2 separate regions of the Homo sapiens genome follow, and region 1 is linked to region 2. The links come from fine-mapping of genetic effects on gene expression. A gene starts in region 2. The other region holds a variant in brackets. All regions are shown on one strand. Distances are between the middles of the regions. Region 1 overlaps PARAIL (palmitic acid regulated anti-inflammatory lncRNA). Region 2 holds the start of PARAIL (palmitic acid regulated anti-inflammatory lncRNA).

Evidence for each region. PIP is the estimated chance that this variant, and not a neighbour inherited with it, causes the effect.
Region 1: its variant is fine-mapped to the expression of PARAIL in subcutaneous fat (GTEx, PIP above 0.99). The same link has a PIP of 0.9 or more in breast, fibroblasts and tibial artery.

What each region holds. Positions count from the first base shown.
Region 1 is chr8:89,723,414-89,726,443 of GRCh38, reverse strand. PARAIL (palmitic acid regulated anti-inflammatory lncRNA) reads left to right here. Exons shown (of 5, transcript NR_125822.1): 2 at 803-926; 3 at 1,478-1,815. Among named protein-coding and RNA genes, the nearest start is that of PARAIL, 33 kb to the left of the region's middle. RefSeq lists enhancers at 336-435, 486-535, 566-615, 191-740. The variant C/G (reference allele first, on the strand shown) is at 1,612.
Region 2 is chr8:89,756,690-89,759,402 of GRCh38, reverse strand. It overlaps PARAIL (palmitic acid regulated anti-inflammatory lncRNA), which reads left to right and starts at 1,692. Exons shown (of 5, transcript NR_125822.1): 1 at 1,692-2,358. It overlaps RIPK2 (receptor interacting serine/threonine kinase 2), which reads right to left and starts at 1,587. Exons shown (of 11, transcript NM_003821.6): 1 at 1,170-1,587. The coding sequence starts at 1,342. RefSeq lists an enhancer at 1,112-1,181 and a silencer at 1,722-1,841.

The DNA.
Region 1 (3,030 bases), 33 kb after region 2:
ACAAATATAGTGAAACAATAGTGAAGCACAGATTGCCCAGAAAGGGTAAAGTTTCAACATCTTCCCACAAAAACAATGATTGAGTCTTTTCATTAGTTAGCTCCTAAAAAATCAGCATAAAACTAGATAATAATAGGATACCTGCTGATCTGTGAGATAAAAACATTCTTTTAAATTGCATGCCAATTTGAAAAGATAAATATTGATGCCAATGTACTGGTGATGAAGTGGGGGCCTGGGGTGTGGGGATGAGACCAGCTGGCAGACATTGGCTAAGCCAGACCCTGGGCTGAGTTGGATTGCATAGGCCTTGTGACTCTATTATTAAACACAGATCCTGAGGGTGAATGACAGCATCTGTGAGATTTTTGAGTCAGTTCTGAAGTAGGTTCTCAGCCAAGTTAGGCAGACATAGAAAAGTAATTATAAAATGCCTAGGCACCAGCCCCACCTAGAGTTGATGCTTAGAATGAGGTAGATAGTAGCAGAAGGAGCAGTTTTTTAAGCCAGTGAGCTTTACAGTGGGGGAAGGGGCAGAATGGGGAAGTCCTTTATTCTGAGCTCTTAAGCATGCCAGGAGCAGATGCCTGATTTTACTGTGTGGCACTTTGTGGCCCAGAAACTTTCCAGATTCTGTATTTTCCTATCTGGTTAAATGTAACTGTATTTACCTGTGTTTCAAAGCCTGAATGCTTTATTTATTCTCTACTTAATTTTCTTTTCCAGTTTTTCCTAACAAGCTTCCCTAGATTTACTTGTTCTCACTTCCTAGACGCTATTTGTATTCTTCCTTCTTCTCTAGTTCATTGGAAATTTCTGCTTCTTTGAGACTGAGGTTATATTCCACTTCTTCTGACTACACCACCACCATCAATCTCCTTCTCTGAACTCTTGGATCATTACTTCAACCTGAAACAACTCATCAGGTATCTATAAAGGTGGTTATTTGAGTTCCTGTTTTTAGGATTCCAAAATGATGCCAAGATATGTAAAATGAAATGTTAATTGCATTTTTTTTGAGGGGGTTAGAACTATGTAAGTCCCAAAAGAGACAAAGAGTTTAGCTCAAAGCTATCAGATGTTGGAATCAGAAGTTTGGCTTAGGTTAATAAAATGTTTTGCTGTTTAATTTACAAAATTTTTCAAGATCAGGTCCCTGGAGGGAAAATAGCAAAAGGAATTCCTGATAGAGAAAAGTTGCAAACCACTAATTGTGTATAGATTTGGTATTTTGTTATGTGTAGTAAAGTGGTTGAGAGTATGATCTTTGAAGTCAGGCAGACCTGGGTTTGCCACTTTCTATCTGTATAACTCTGTACTTTGCATTATCTTTGGGAGTCTTGGTTTCTCACCTAGAAAGTGAGTCAAGGCAAATAATTTACTCAGCACAATGCCTGCCATATAGTAAATGTTCAGTGTTATCATTATTGTTGTTGCATCTTATTTGCTCTTTTTTGTGGTTTATGTCCTGTGTTAGGCAGAATAGTTGCCTACTGCCCCAACCCCACCAAATGTTCCAGCACCTCTGATATTACCTCACATGGCAAGAGGGCTTTGAAGATGTGATTGAGTCAAGGATCTTGAATGGGGAGATTATCCTGAATTATTCAG[C/G]TGGACCCAGTGTAATCACAAAGGTTTTTCAAAGATGGAAGAGAGGCAGAAGAGCCAGAAAAGGATATGTGACAATGGAGTCAGTGTCAGAGTTGGAGTGACGTGATGTGAGAAGGATTCAACCTGCTGTTTCTGGCTTTGAGGATGAAAGAAGGGGCCATGAGCCAAGCAATACAGGTGGCTTCTTTCAAGAAGTTGGAAAAGGTAAGGAAATGGGTTCTCACCTAGAACTGCTGGAAAGCAACCCAGCCCTACTGACACCATGATTTTAGCTCAGTGAGACTCTGTCCAGATTTCTGACCTCTAGAACTATAAGATAATAAATTTGCATTGTTTTAAGCCACTAAGTTTGTGGTAATTTGATAAAGCATCAACAAAAAATGAACACTTCTTCCCAGCAGGACTCCTTTTGAAGACCAGTTCTGTATACATCATCGTATCCAGTGTAAGTACTGGATGTAAATATGGATCAATAATTTGGAATTTACTGAGGTTTCCAGTGGTGAGGCACAATAACTTGTAATTTGCAATTTTTTGTAGTGGAGAAGAGATAACCATGAGTCAGCTCTCTTTCTGCATACACATTTCCATTGCAGCACAAGTTAAAGATACTGGAGAAATTCCCCATCTCACTACCAAGGACAGACCTAACTGACAATAAATTCATCTATAGCCCAGTCAGGGTTTTCCCCTCATTGTCCCTGCCTTCCACAATTGCAGCTAGTTTTCAAAAAGATACATAAAAATAGCTACCATGAATTTAGCACATGGTATGTGCCAGGAGTTATGCTAAATGCTCTGCGTATGTTATCTTACTTAATCCTCCAAAATTTTCCATGGTGGTAAAAATAAATGTTTCTTGTTTTCAAACTTCAGGTCATGACTCTCAGTGGATTTTGAAATCAATTTTGTAGGGAGTGATCAGTAGTTATTAAACAATAAAATAGAATATGAAATATCATTGCATTTCAGGAAGTAAGAGTAGGCATAGCTTCATCAAATTTTGGTTTCAATTATATATATATCTTATCATGTCTATAAAATAAACACATATGTGTATGTACTGGGTTGTGTTACAGAACATATTTCTTACAATGAGTCCTAGTAAAAATTACTTTTTTTTTTTTTTGAGACGGAGTTTTGCTCTTGTTGCCCAGGCTGGAGTGCATTGTGCGATCTCGGCTCACTGCAGCCTCCACCTCCCAGGTTCAAGCGATTCTCCTGCCTCAGCCTCCTGAGTAGCTGGAATTACAGACATGTGCCACCACGCCTAGATAATTTTTTTTTTTTTTTTTTTTGTAGAGACGGGATTTCTCCATGTTGGTCAGGCTGGTCTCGAACTCCTGACCTCAGGTGATCTGCCCACCCCAGCCTCCCAAAGTGCTGGGATTACATGTGTGAGCCACCACACCCAGCCCT
Region 2 (2,713 bases):
AGATATAGGAGGAGGAGAAGAGAATGTTGTAATCATGGATGTTAACTCACTAAGAACTGAATGCTGGGCCTAGTTAAATCCCTGTAGGAAGTAAAATACACAAGACTAGTGACCCATTGACTAATACACAGTCACAGGTCTATGGCACGCGGTTGTAATGTTCTTCTGAAAACAGAAACTAATGCTAACCTTCCCTTAAAACCTGTACAAACCAATAAGTGAAAGCCATTTACAATTTCTGGCCATTTAACAGTCTTTTGGTTCAATTTATTGTGGCAAAAATAGCACACATTTCCTCTACTTAATCTTCCCTGTGAGAGAAACTGAGACTGGGAGAAACTGAACTGCTAGTATTGAGTTTGATATAAAACGTTCCTGACAACACATAATAAACCAAAACCAAAATAAAAACAATAAGAAGCAAAACATCCTTGATTCTAAAGCAGTGCGGTCCAATAAACATATAATGTGAACACCACCACATACAATTTAAAATTTTCTCGTGGCCACATAAAGTAAAAAGAAACACATAAAATGAATTTTAATCTTATATTTAACCCAAGATATCAAAAATGTTATTTCAGCATATAATCAATAAACAAATAATAAAATATTATAAGTTCTTTTTTTAATAAATACTAAGCATTCGAACTCTGGTATTTTACACTTAGGTCACACTTCAATTCGGACGGGCACATTTCAAGTGCTCAATAGCCACCTGTGGCTAAGAGCTACCTACTGGACAGTGCAGCCCTACAGCCCAATTTCAAAAATAAGGAAAAAACAAAGCAAACAAAACCCACACCCACTATATATAAACACACATCAATTTCAGTAAACCCAGCGTTTAGAGTTAGGCAGTGATTGCTGATTTTTGGAGTACGGAGCCAGAACGCCTAGGAGTAAGAGGGAAGGAGAGAAAGGGTAATGGAGAGATGTGTGGAGGAATGCAACTGCTGCATCTCCAGAGAAGCCTGTGCTCCCTACGGTGCCAGAGCTTGAAGGGTGGGTGCTCCCTATCTCCCAAGCTTGAAGGGCTCCCTAGAGGTGACGAGGTGAGGCCGGCCCCAAGCGGTCACTGCCATTTGGGCTCTAGAGCCCGCTTGTCAGGGGGCTTGAGGGGATGCAGGAGTTGAGGGCTCTTCCAGGGAACCCCAGTGACTGCCTACCTGTCGAGCAGCGGAGTGTGGATGTGCAGGTGCTTCACGGCCACCTGGACGCGCCAGTCTGCGTGGCGGGCGGACGACACAGTGCCAGAGGCGCCGCGGCTCAGGTAGCGCAGGTCGGCGAGTTTGTGGTAGGGAATGGTGGGCAGGGCGCTGCAGATGGCCTCCCCGTTCATGGTCCCGGGCGCTCAGGCCGGTTCCGGGTGTGCCCCCTGCTGCGGCGGCTCCCAAGGCTCCCACGCCGCGCTCAGGCGCCCAGATACGCCCCTGCACGAGCGAGGCCGGCAAGACCCTTTTTGCCCCGCAACACTAGGTCACGAGGGCGCCCATTCCCCGGATGGCCCACGCCAGCCGCTGCTTCTCCGAACCAGAGCTGACTTCTTTTCTAGAGACTGGTGCCAACGCCGTAGCGCCGCGAAAGAGCTTCCTCTCTCGCAGCCCCGGCCCTCCCCCCGGCGCGCGCAGCGACCAGCTCCGGCCGCCCGAGCTCCTCCCTCCCCAAACTTCGCAGGTTACGTCAGCGGCGGACGGCAAGGCGGGGAGAGGGGCAGCCCGCTCGCGGCCCTCCCGCCTGGCTCTCGCCTCGGCCTGCGGCCGGGATCCTCCGCCCGGGTCGCGCAGCGGAGGCCGAGGGCTGGGACGGGCGGCTGGGAAGTGGGAAAGGGAGCTCCTTTTGTCTTCTCTTCCCATCCCCCAGGTTTGGGAAAGTTTTCCTTTTGGGAAAGCCCCTCTCTTCAGCCTGCTGGCGGGTGTCGGATTGGTTAGCGACCACCGGCCCCCGCCTCCCCCAACAGGATTCTCCTTTGGGCCACAGGTCTTCCGGAAGTTGCCAAACCCCGGTAGCGGCAGCGTCCGGCTGGGGGCTTTATTAGGGGGCACCGGGGTCTGCTTTCCGACTCCCTTCCGACTCCGCGCCTGCGCAGGAAGCGATTTGGGGAGTGTTGTGAATTCCGAGGGCTCCACACTTAAGAGGTTGTACACTCACCTGTCTACCTGGACTCCAATTTCCATATTTCCAGCCACTTGAGGACTGAGAGGTGGATGATAAACCCTGTCATAGTGGAGCAAGTTCAGGTGTTTAACCGCTGTTATGGGGGATCTGCCTTTTCTCCCTCTTCTTTCTTACTTCCATAAGTATGTATGTGCAGAGATTGAAAAATAACCTTGAGAGAGTCCATCCATCTAACTCCAGGTAAGACTGCAAATATTTCTTTCTTATAAATCTGGGAGGAATGCAGTCAGTGTTTCATGCCAACCAAAAAAGACTGCAAACGTTTTTCCATCCTTCTGCCTTGAATACCTTTCTACTTAGATGACTATTTTGTAAGACGTGAGTGCAAATGTTATATACAATACCAACTCCATACTAGATGTTTAATTAATTCTAGGGATTCAGTAATAAGGAATGACTCGAACAGATTTCTGCCTACAGACAGCTAATGCTTCTTGTATTTTTGCATTACCTGAAATGAAAGTAGCAATGTTAGATTTTACAGTAGTGGGAGGTTGTAAACAATAGTATGTTAAACATTTTTGATCATTTATAA